Regions from separate parts of the Homo sapiens genome. Here all the other regions are linked to region 3. Evidence: fine-mapped expression QTL. A gene starts in region 3. Each other region holds a variant in brackets. All regions are shown on one strand. Distances are from middle to middle.

Region 1 (4,239 bases), 33 kb before region 3:
ATTTATATTAAGAAACTATAGTTTGCCGGGCGTGGTGGCTCACGCCTGTAATCTCAGCACTTTGGGAGGCCGAGGTGGGCAGATCATGAGGTCAGGAGATGGAGACCATGCTGGTTAACATGGTGAAACCCCGTCTCTACTAAAAATACAAAAAAATTAGCCAGGTATGGTGGCAGGCTTCTGTAGTCCCAGCTACTCGGGAGGCTGAGGCAGGAAGATGGCATGAACCCGGAAGGCAGAGCTTGCCATGAGCCGAGATAGCGCCACTGCACTCCAGCCTGGGTGACAGAGCGAGACTCCGTCTCAAAAAAAAAAAAAAAAAGAAAATATAATTTATATTAAGAAAATAATTGGCCAGGTGTGGTGGCTCATGCCTGTAAACCCAACACTGCGGGTGGCTGGGGTTGGGGGATCGCTTGAGGCCAGGAGTTTGAGACCAGGCTGGGCAACATGGCAAGATTCTGCCTCTACAAAAAATTTAAAAATTAGCAAGGCTTAGTAGTGTGCTCGCATCTGTGGTCTTAGCTACTCAGGAGGCTGAGGTCGGAGGATCCCTTGAGCCCAGGAGTTTGAGGCTACAGTGAGCTATGACCACACCACTCACTGCACTCCAGTCTGGGTGACAGGGAGAGACTCTGTAAGAAAAGAAAAGCCGGGCGTGGTGGCTCATGCCTGTAATCCCAGCACTTTGGGAGGCTGAGGCAGGCAGATCACGAGGTCAGGAGATTGAGACCATCCTGGCTAACACGGTGAAACACTGTCTCTACTAAAAATACAAAAAATTAGCCAGGTGTGGTGGTGGGCGCCTGTAGCCCCAGCTACTCAGGAGGCTGAGGCAGGAGAGTGGCGCGAACCCGGGAGGCAGAGCTTGCAGTGAGCCGAGATAGCGCCACTGCACTCCAGCCTGGGCGACAGAGCAAGACTGTCTCCAAAAAAAAAAAAAGAGAAGCGAAGCGAAGAGGGGAAGAGAGGAAGAGGAGAAGAAGAGAGGACCGGAGGGGAGAGATGGTTAACAGGGGTATAACAGGAATATATTAATGATGCTTTCTGGAGCACTGTTTACAGTGAAAAATTGGAAACACTCTAAATGTCCATCATTAGGGGATTAAGCAAAGAAATTATCATTCATCCATATAATATAATATAGCAATTAAAAAGAACGAGGTAGACACCCATCTATTAACATGGAAAGGAAGGCATTATTCTGTTAAGTTAAAAAAGCAGGTTAGAGAACAGTTCATATAGATGATATTATTTATGCAAAACATATGCATACATACATATACACGGGTACCTGAACACACACCCATATTCTCTCTTTCTCAAAGAATACACTCCAAACTTTTAGGAATGATTACTCTTAGACAGTAAAAGGGAAGAAAGGAGATTTTTTATTATTTCTCCTCTCTTAACCAGGAAGAAAAGCAGGGGAAAAAAAAAATCTTTAAAGCCCCAGATGTCATGTAATGGAAATTACAGAAATTCCTTGGGTTCTTTCTCTGCCTCCACCAAGTTCAGAGGCAGAGGCTTGGGTGCGCTGAAGATTCCCTATCACCAGTAAACCACCGGCATGGCCGAAGAAGGCACTGCTGCTGCTGGTGTCATGGATGTTAATACTGCTTTACATGAGGATGGCCTAGCACGTGGAATTCACAAAGCTGGCAACTTTAGACAAGCACCGAGCCCATCTTTGTGTGTTTGCACCCAACTACGATGAGCCTGTGTATATCAAGTTGGTGCAGGCCCTTTGCGCTGAATACCAAATCAACCTAATTAAGGCTGATGACGACAGGAGACTAGGGGAATAGGTAGGCTTCTGTAAAACTGACAAAGGAAAAACTCTGTAAAGTGGCTGGTTGCAATTGTGCAGTTGTGCTGTAGGACTATGGCAAAGAATCTCAGGTCAAGGATGTCACTGAAGAGTACTTCAAATGCAAGAAATGAACAAATAAAAAATTTTGCTCACATTCCTCAAAAAAAATTTTTTTTTCTTCGAAACAGATTTAAAACAATCCGATCGGTTGGGTGCGGTGGCTCACACCTGTAATCCCAGCACTTTGGGAGGCCGAGGCAGGCAGATCACGAGGTCAGGAGATGGAGACCATCCTGGCTATCACGGTGAAACCCTGTCCCTGCTAAAAATACCAAAAAAATTAGCCAGGTGTGGTGGCGGGCACCTGTAGTCCCAGCTACTCCGAAGGCTGAGGCAGGAGAATGGCGTGAACCTGGGAGGC[G/A]GGCTTGCTTGCAATGAGCCAAGGTGGCACCACTGCACTCCAGCCTGGGCAACAGAGCGAGACTCCATCTCAAAAAAAAAAAAAAAAAAAATCAGATCAGCATTTTTCTAACATCTAATAAACTCATATAGCTCAAGGACCACATCTTCCCCCTTTTAGGGAGTAGGTGATTGAAGGTTTTCACAAATCCCCTCATCCCTTAGACTAGCTGCTCAATAAATAACAGCTGACTAAATAAGCTACCAGTGTTACATTTTAAGTATAATACACAGCATAATTTAAAATATAATATTAGGCTTCTCTGGAAAAATTTTTCTTAGTTTTCATATTAATAACCTGATTTTACATTCTTTTCAATATTATATCTTCCTTTATAAGACATTTTCACAACCCAAAACTAAATTGTCTATTACATGCATTTTTACAAGGATTTTTTGTTATTGTTTATATTGTTGTTAGAGACAGGATCTCACTCTTCTTGACCAGGCTGGAGTGCAGTGTTGCGACCATAGCTCACTGTAGCCTCAAACTCATAGGCTCAAGGGATCCTCCCTCCTTAGCCTCCTGAGTAGCTGGGACCACAGGCACACAGCATCACACCTGGCTAATTAAGAAAAAAAATTTTTTTAAGAGACGGGGTCTTGCTATGTTGTCCAAGCTGGTCTCAAACTCCTGGCCTCAAGTAACCCTTCCACCTTGGCCTCCTAAAGCACTGGCATTACAGGTGTGTGCCACCACACCAGGCTCATTTAAAAAAACTTTTTTTGTAGAGATGGAATATCTCTCTACAAAAAATGCTGGTGCCCAGGTTGGTCTTGAATTCATGGGCTCAAGCGATCCTCCTGCCGCCACCTCCCAAAGTGCTGAGATTACAGATGTGAGCCACGGCACCTGGCCTACAAGTATTACTATACATGTCTTTACATTCAGAATCACTGAATATGAGAATTGATCTGGTCTAATCTCCTTGATGTACAAACGGACACTAGTTTCCACAGGTGTTAAAGTTACTCCAGATCCTTCTATTAGTAGCGAAGCCAGGACTAGAACCAAGAACCTGGGTTTCTACCTGTTTTGATTTAAATATAACAATAACAATAACAAACTCTATTCTACCAATTCAACACCCACTCTGCCTTCTTTCATTTGTGAAGTGCTCCCTTGAGTAACTGATAGGGCAAAGCTTCATGTAGACTTTTGCCACTTCACACCAATTTGGATATCTGACCAAACAAATTACCTATACAATAAGTAAAATCTTCCCTATAATTTCCACAAATATATTTGAAGAAGTGATTTTCTTGTGCCCATAAGACAATGTGCATTCACTATATTGGATGTAATACAAAAAGTAGCCATTTCTGGGTTTAAATTTGTCTTATTTAAGAACAGCAGTGCAACTAATCTTAATGATTTGGTTGTTTGGATGAGATAATATTGAAGACAAAGTCATGGTTTACTAAAGCAAAGAAACTGTATGCTAAGTCTATAAGATGGCAATTTCCTATTTTCTGTGACTCCTTTCAGAGTCTCAGGATAAGGCTGCACCAATTCAGTGTAGTTTGTTTCCATGCATTAACCTCTACAGGTAATTCATGCCAATTTGTGTTCACACATCTACATTTTTGCCTAAATACATGCAAATTTATGCATCCCATCAACCACTGTCTTTTATATTTAAAGATGATGACACTAATAGTGACTGTTATTCTTGTATACAGGTTTTCCTGAAAAGACTGCCATATTTTCCAGATCTTAAGCACAATTTTTAAAAAGTCTATTAACATTGCTTTAAATCTACAGTCAAGCATTTTGAGTGTGAACAGCAAGCAAAGCAACGGACTTAGGTTCACAGTGCCAGGCTCCGTTCTAAGGACTCATCAAGTGGTAGCTCATTTAACCTTACATCCGTAAGATGCAGGTATTATCATCCTCATTTACAAATGAGGAAGTTGAGGCATGGAGAGGACAGGTAACTCATCCAGGATCACACAGTAATAAGTGA
Region 2 (4,239 bases), 100 kb after region 3:
TGCTGTTGTCTATATCGTATCTGGCATATTGCCAAATTGTTATGCCTATATCCAACTGCAGCAATATTGCCAGCTTTCCAACTTCAGATCAAAACTTTCAGAGAAAGAAAGCTGTAAATAACAGGATATTAAAATGAAATTCTCTATGGCTTGATTTCAAGCAAGCTCCCTAAAGCTGAGAACAATGCAGTAGTACCAAGTATCTCTCAGATGATACAGGCAGATGCTGGTCTAGCCATGCAGGGCACGTTAAGAGGAAAAAAAAAAAGACCGGTATGGTGACTCATGGCTGTAATACCAGCACTTTAAGAGGCTGAGGTGGGAGGATAGCATGAGCTCAGGAGTTCAAGTCCAGCCTGGGCAACATAGTGAAACACCATCTTTACAAATAATAAAACAATTAACTAGGCATGATGGTGCGTGCTGTGGTTCCAGCTACTTGGGAGGCTGAGGTAGGAGAATGACTTAAGCCCAGTGTTGGAGGCAAGGGTCAGGGGGTTGAGGCTGCAGTGAGCCAAGATCATACCACTGCACTCCAGCAGACAAAGCAACAGAGCAAGACCTAGCATCAAAAAAATTTTTTTATTAAAAAAAATTGGCTGGGCGCAGTGGTTCACACCTGTAATCCCAACCCTTTGAGAGCCCAAAGTGGGTGGATCCCTTGAGCCCAGGAGTTCGAGACCAGCCTGGAAAACATGGTGAGACCCTGTCTCTACAAAAAATAAACAAAAATTAGCTGAGTGTGGTGGCATGCGCCTGTGGTCCCAGCTACATGGGAGACTGAGGCAGGAGGATTACCTGAGTCTAGGAGGTTGAGGCTGCAGTGAGCCAATATCACACCACTGCACTCCAGCCTGAGTGAAAGAGCGAGACCCTATCTCAAAATGAAAAAAGAAAGAAAGAGAGAGAGAGTGAGAGAGAATCAGAAACCAGTCATGCCTACATTAGCCTATCACAGACACCTACTTTTTCAAGATGGAATTTTGATAATCAGTAGTAGAGGGAGGATCTTTGTGAGAATTTTCAGTGTGCTGGGTATCCCACTCCCACAGGTGGGAAAAGGATGCACTTCAAAGGAAGTTTCTAGAGAACCACTTGTGGGGACTGGTGTCCCACTCTTGCCAAGTGAGAGGTGGCTGGGACTGCTTCTGCCTCGCAGTGAAGACAGAATGCCTCAAAGGCCCGTTGCATTTCCACTGCATTTTACTAGGACCTGGATATGAAGGCAGCTGGCCTGGAATTTGCTTAAACATGACTTTTCCCAAGACACCTGCCTCGAGGGACAGTGCCGCCCAGGCAGACGGGTGGACACAGGAAGCCAAGGGGTCAAGAGAAATCAGGAAAGGCATAATTTCTCCATCAAAGAGTAAGTGGGCAACTCTCTGGAAAGCCTGAGAAAGCTCACCAAGAGAGCAGGCATCTGCCATCCGGAGGGTACAAGCAGCAGGACCCCAGCCATCCAGCTGAGTCAAGCTGTGCCCTTTCCCTGAATCCCCTCTTCCCAGGACCCAACCCTGCAGGGGTTACAAACAGCAGCTATAAAGTGGGAAGCAAGAGGATTGGGAAAAGAGAAAAGAAACTGATGATACTCTCAATTCTGCCTGCCAGTGTGGCCAGGTCCAAAGTGGAGAAGGGAAGAAATCTTAATTGGATAAAGATTTGGAGTTAATTGGAGTTCTGATTTTTATCCTGGACTGGATTGGAATTATATGATTATGAAACAGACTTTATTTGTTAATACCCAAACAAGGGGCTTTTCATTTATTTTCCAGGGATGACTGGAAAAGCCATGGAATGTGCTCATGATCCTATCCTGGGGCAAGGAAGAATTAGACCATGGAGTGATTTGAAGAGGCCATGGAAGAAAAAAAATAAAGTTATTTTATGCTTATAAGCCCAGCTAAGTCCAGCTCATTCAATGAAATGATTGTAAGCATTTATGGAAAGAAGAAAGGGAGAGGTCCTCCTGCCAGGAACCCGCCTCTAGCCACAGAGGATAGCGATCACTAAAGATAAGGGTTTTCCCAGTGAAGAGCTTTGGAAATGTTTCCCTTGACTAGAAATGATACTGACCCCAAGGTTCAGGCCCACCAGAGAACAGTGGGAACAATAGTTTATCTCCTTGAGTAATGAGAAGGATTCCAGTTTTCAGGTGAGCTGGGCCTCTTTCCAGGTTGTCCAGAGCCTTTTAAGTCTAAAGCCCACATCAGTGTTTTCAAAAGTGTTTCCACAAAGCATGACACCCACAGATTATGAATAGGCATTACCAAGGAAAACAGGGTTCCATGGTTTAAAAGTTTGAACAATGTGGGCTGGGAGTGATGGTTCATGCCTGTAATCCTAGCACTTTAGGAAGGCAACATGGGAGGATCAGTTGAGCTAAGGAGTTCAAGACCAGCCTGGGCAACATAGTTAGACCTTGTCTCTTTAAAAGAAAAAAAAAATTAAGTTTGAAAAATGCTGTTAAATAAAACTAAACAGTTGTCTTTCCTGCAGGACTTATCAGAGCCTCAGCATGCTAAGGTATATTGGTCATGCTTCTATAATAATTGTTCATTTCCTGCAGCTTGTTTTGCTACAGGACACTTTAGTTTGTTCCTAGGAATGCTCTGGA[G/T]TGGTTGGAAGTGCACTTCACTCCCCGTGCAATGCCCTCCTCCTGCTTCTGTCAGCATCAGTGACTACAGCCTTTAGTGTTCTCAGGTGTATTTCTGAAACCATTCCCCGTGATCTCTAACTCCAGGGAAGGTTGTCGAGTTATTTGAGTGCTCCTCTTGACTGCCAATTCTACTCAGCTTCAGATAAAGAAGAAAACCCTCTTTGCCTTCTCCTCTGGAGAGGGTATTGGAAATTTACTATACATTGAAAATTTCTCCAAGGTATGTCACTTCCCCCAGCCTCTTCTACCATAACTCTTTTGTACCCGGGGGGTGGACTAATACCAGTTTTTAGATCTCTCTGTGTACCCTGCAGTGGTGGCTGTAGCAGGTGATTTTGGTGCCCTGCCCTGTGGTCCTCATGGCTGTTCACCCTTCTGACTCTGGGATTCCAGTGTTTGTTCTATGCAGTAAATCAATTGTTGTGATAAATGAATCCCATTTTATTCACACTCGACCTTTGTTATGTAATGTATGTTTAATGAAAATGAGTGTGGGTAGTTATAAAAATAATAATTACTATTTATTGAGTGATTAATATGTGCCAGTCATCTGCCACAAGCATTCTCTCAGTAATTAAAAATAGGTATTAATGCTTCCACACTACAGACAAGGAAAGTGAGGCTTAGGAGACTTAAATAACTCACGAGAAGGCACACACTGAGTGGATGTCTAGATCCAGCTGCCTATTCTCATATGCACTGTTCCAGTCTCACCAGAGCATCACAGTGTATCAGACTCTCATTGTCTGAGGTATACCCAAAGTTCTTTGTCCCACTGAGAGGTGAAGCCAGCTAGATTTCCTGGGTCGAGTGGGGACTTGGAGAACTTTTCTGTCTAGCTAAAGGATTGTAAATGCACCAATCAGCACTCTGTAAAAACACACCAATCAGTGCTCTGTGTCTAGCTAAAGGATTGTAAACGCACCAATCAGCACTCTGTAAAAACACACCAGTCAGTGCTCTGTGTGTAGCTAAAGGATTGTAAACGCACCAATCAGCACTCTGTAAAATGGACCAGTCTGCACTCTGTAAAATGGACCAATCAGCACTCTGTAAAATGGACCAATAAGCAGGACATGGGTGGGACCAAATAAGGGACTAAAAGCTGGCCACTCCAGCCAGCCACGGCAACCTACTCGGGTACCCTTCTATGCTGTGGAAGCTTTGTTTTTCTGCTCTTCACAATAAATCTTGCTGCTGCTCACTCTTTGGGTCTGCACTACCTTTAAGAGCTGTTAACACTTGCCGCGAAGGTCCACGGCTTCATTCTTGAAGTCAGCGAGACCACCAACCCACTGGAAGGAAGAAACTCTGGACACACCATCTTTAAGAGCTGTAACACTCTCTGCGAAGGTCCACGGCTTCATTCTTGAAGCTGGTGAGACCAAGAACCCACTGCAAGGAATAAATTCCGGATACACCACGACCAAGAAAATTAAGGAGCGCAGACACCAAGGGTGAAGTTGGAGCATGAGTTTAATGAGCAAAAGAAGAAAACTCTCTGCCATGGAGAGGGGACCTGAAAGAGGGTTGGTGTTTTTACAGTTGAATGTTAAAGCTTTTATAAGAAACTGATGAGGGCT
Region 3 (4,239 bases):
TGTTTCTATTTTTAAATGCACTGTTACTTTAAGGGAAAAGTCTGTGGAGAAATATGAAACCAAGCTGCATAATGAAAATAAAAATGCATTTGGTGTCTTCATCTGTGCAAAGACAGTAATCCTAATGTACAAGGAGCACTGTTTTGTTGACTACTCAGTTTGTCTGTAAATGAAATGACCGGTACTCAAGACAGAATCCCACAGAAAGCTCATCTGCTATTCAAAGAATTAGATCCGTCAGAAGGACAAAACACGAGAGTACCCATATTTCAATGCTATTTTTATAACTCCAGATAAGGGACTATCGTAAGTAAGCAGATGAATAGATCCCAAAATCACCCTTCAAATCTTTACCTAAAAGATCCTGATTAGTAACTAACGTGGTTCAGCCCGAAAAATGATCAACTGATTACTTAGCATTTGGAACCAACTGTCCACAGTTATAGATTGTACCAAATCCCACAAAATCAAATCTGTTTCTCTTCACAAATGACAACACTTCATGTCATTAAACAGTAGCTAACAGTCGCACTGCTTATGGTTAAGAGTGACAAGGAGCAGGTGCCAAGCCAGCAAGGAAAACAAGTAACGGCTACACAACAGGAGCTAAAAAGTATTCTACCTGTTCCCCCAGACTGCTTTCAAGAATCTGACCCAACAGAATTTTTTCCCGAAACAATATGCAGTTTGCGGGGGGGTGGGGGGAGGGGACATTCGTTGGTGATATGGGCATCTAATTTAATCTGTAAATATTTAATGTACTCAATGAGTTTACTTACTATCACCATGAAATATGCTATACTATCTACACTGCTATAAATGCATCTAAAAATACATCCATTACTAGACAACATTCAGTACAATGTACAATAAACACTACATTCAGTGTTAAACACAACATTTTACATATAGCTTAGCTATTTAATATCACCACCAGAATCTGCTAAAGGTAGCAGAATGTTTGCAAACTGGATAAAAACTGCTATGCTCAACACGAAAAGCAAAGAATCCCCAATCTTATCGCCTCATGATTTCTTTCCCCAAATTTGGCAAAACTGAGCTTGAACACCACACATTATAGAATGGAGGCATTGCTTCTCTAAGCAATAATGTCACAAACCCTGCTTCAGAGTCTCTCTTCAGTGAAAATCTCTGAAGAAGGAAATTCACTAAATTGTATTCCATCGATCAACAGGTGATTCGTGGAAACACAAACTCATATTCATTTCCAATGAAAATTAATATTGTAAACTCTCCCGTTTTTTCACATATATATATTTACAAGCTACTGCATTATTATATTGAATGAATTCCAACCGATTTCTTCTCAGAGGCTTACTAGAAAAATGCCAAATATTCAAATTATTTTGGGGCGTTAACCCATACTGTTGCATGGAACAGAACGGAATTAATAAGGATCCAACAGTTACCACTTTTCAAATGCAAATATGTTGCCATCTAGTAAATACAGCCCCTTTTTAAACATCCCTCAGTGTCTATACAGTTCAGGGCCCTACTTTTGTTTCTTTGAAAATCAAAATTCGCGCATTACATTGAGGCATTATCTCAACTCAGCAACAACAACTAAAATAGATACTAACTAGTCCAGCCTGAGTCTACATCGTACAAGACTTTTGCTTTATTTTTTCCTCCCATTTTAGACACACTGTCCCTAAACAATTCTGCCAAAGGAAACAAACCCTGCAGTGATGAAAAGAATCACGGACACTGGGTTCCACGAACAATAAGGTCGTGGGCTGGTCACCTGCCCGCCTCGGGCCTCAGTTTTCCTGTCTGTAAAATGTGGCCGCTGGACGAATCACCTATGGGGTCCCATCCGGCCCTCTCCCTCCCGGGTGCCTCGCAGCCCGCCCGGGCTCAGCTGACTGGTGCTGTGGCCAGGGTGCCCTGCCTGCCGCCGCTCTAGATGGAGGAGAAGGGGGGCGAGGGAGGAGAGGAACTTGGACTTGCAACAGCTTCAAACAGGAGCCGGCGACAAACTTGAAGCCGTCCTCCTAACAATAGGAAAGAGCACTCCCATTTTCCTGGCTCAAACTTGCGGGACCCCGCGAGGCTGGATCCTCCCAGCCGCCCTCTCGGAACCCGCTTTACCTTTCTCCCTGTTTGGTGTTAGAAGGAGGAGGGTGCAGGACCGTTTGATTCCCTTCCATCTCCACCACGCACTTGGTGTTCAGTTCCAGTTCTGAAAGCAGAGAGAAAGGGACGTTGCAAAGTCCAGCATCCGCGCCTCCAGCCCGCCCGCCCGCCAGCCGCGCCGAGCGGGGCTCCGTCCCTGGAGGCGGCCGAGCCTGGAGACGGCGCCCCGGGCACCACGGCCAGCGCGGACGCCGCCTCCGCCCCGGCCCCCCGGCCCCGGCCGCGCTCTCGCCGTCCCGGCCCCGCAGTTTCTAAAGTTGCCCCCGCCCTCAGCCCGAGCAGAAATAAAAAAGAGCGGAAAGCTCCTCACCTCGTCGGTTCATGGGCCGGACCCGGACGGCAACTTTTACCTTGGTATCCGACATGTTGGCTGCGCTCGCCCGGCCGCTCGCCGCGCCCGCTCGGCCTTAGGCGGCCCCTCACGCGCGGCGCCGCCGCCGCTGCAGCCGCGCGCCCCTCGAGCGCGGCCGCCGCCGCTCCGCCGTGAGCTCCGAGAGGCAGCGCCGAGGCGCGCGGGCCATCCCGGGGGAGCGCGACGCGGGGCACGGCCGCGGCCCGGGGAGGGGCGGGCGCGCGGGGCGGGGCGCGGCGGCGGCGGCGGCGGCGGCGGGCGGGGAGGAGGCCTCGCCGGCGGGCCCAGGCGCAGCTCTAGCCGCGCCGCCCCAGCCGAGACCGCAGCGCCGCGGCCCCTCGCGGCTGCCCGGGGCCCCGCGCCGCCATGTTCCGCGCCCGTCACCCGCCGGGGCTCGGGAGAGGCCGGACACGGCCACGCGCGGCGCCCCCTGGAGCGGCGGGACGGCAGTGAGAGGAGCGGCGAGCAGCGCGGCGCTTAGGGGAGGCTGGAGTCCGGGGCGGGACGCATTGTTTCCCCAGGGGACCTCCCAGGCCAAGCCTGCACCGGCGCCCGCGGGGCCCCCCCCCGGACACCGCCGTGAGCTCGAGCCGCCTTCTGGGGCCGCTGCCACCCGGAGCCCCGGGACGGCAGCAAGGACCACGGCTCGCCGCGCTGGGTGCGCAGGCCTTCCCCTCCGAGTCCCGGCACGCCGCCCCCTCTGTCCCACACGGAGCCTGCAGCGGTATTTTAAGATCTCTGTGGTGAACCGAGACTAGAAATGAATCTGTGAATCCACCACCGAAACAGTGTATGTTTGTAAATAGTGCTCTCCCTTCCTTTCCCGGCCTCTCTTGTCTCGGGAGGGATGTCAAGTGGGCTGGGAGGGCCATTAACTCTTACATAAGAATTTAATAGCAATGGATTCTGTCATCCTGCCAAATGCAGACCTCGCTGCCAGGGCGGAACTGGGCGAATCCGATTTATTCTGTTTGGTTCAACAAGTGCTTAAGGGGCGCTCACCGAGTGCCAGGCATTTTGAAGCGTACAGAAGTCAAAAATCCAGAGTTTAGATCCAGGAATCTTTCGATTTTGCTTAAATCTAGAAATCCACTTATTGGAAGATGCATTGAGGTTTTACTGTGTGCAGGGTGCTGTTGAGGACACACAGAAACATGAATAGCATGATGCAGAGGCACACGCTAAGGTGGAAGAGAGGGCGTGGAGACTTATTATGCTAGACAGTGTACGGCAGGTGCTAGGAGAGGGGTCCGTCCGCCTCCAACCGAGGTGATGCTACGCTTGACCCTCGAACAACACGGGTTTGAACTGCACGAGTCCACTTACACGTGGCTTTTTTTCAACCAAAATCTGATTGAAAATACAGTATTCGTGCTCTGGCACAGTGCCTTACGCCTGTAATCCCAACACTTTGGGAGGCCGAGGCGGGAGGATCACTTGAGGCCAGGAGTTCGAGACCAGCCTGGGCAATGTAAAGAAACCCCATCTTGCCAAACATAAAAATTTAAAAAATAGCCGGGCATGGTGGCAGGTGCCTGTAGTCTTAGTTACTGGAGAGGCTGAGGTGGGAGGATCACTTGAGCCTGGAAGGTTGAGGCTGCAGTGAGCCATGTTCGCACCACTGCACTCCAGCCTAGGCAACAAAGCAAGACCCTGTCTCAAAAAAAAAAAGGGAGAAAAAAGAAAAGACAGTATTTGGCAGGTTCAAAACTGAGAGATCCAACTTTTCC

Evidence for each region. PIP is the estimated chance that this variant, and not a neighbour inherited with it, causes the effect.
Region 1: its variant is fine-mapped to the expression of KIF13A in whole blood (TOPMed, PIP above 0.99). The same link has a PIP of 0.9 or more in blood mononuclear cells.
Region 2: its variant is fine-mapped to the expression of KIF13A in thyroid (GTEx, PIP above 0.99).

Annotation. Positions count from the first base shown.
Region 1 is chr6:17,951,999-17,956,237 of GRCh38, forward strand. The region is part of intron 2 of KIF13A (kinesin family member 13A); the gene reads right to left. It also overlaps the pseudogene RPS12P12. Among named protein-coding and RNA genes, the nearest start is that of KIF13A, 34 kb to the right of the region's middle. The variant G/A (reference allele first, on the strand shown) is at 2,235.
Region 2 is chr6:18,086,118-18,090,356 of GRCh38, forward strand. No RefSeq gene overlaps it. Among named protein-coding and RNA genes, the nearest start is that of NHLRC1, 34 kb to the right of the region's middle. RefSeq lists an enhancer at 3,021-3,738. The variant G/T (reference allele first, on the strand shown) is at 2,615.
Region 3 is chr6:17,984,942-17,989,180 of GRCh38, forward strand. KIF13A (kinesin family member 13A) reads right to left here and starts at 2,694. Exons shown (of 39, transcript NM_022113.6): 1 at 2,468-2,694; 2 at 2,113-2,203. The coding sequence starts at 2,522. RefSeq lists silencers at 2,280-2,399, 2,770-3,269.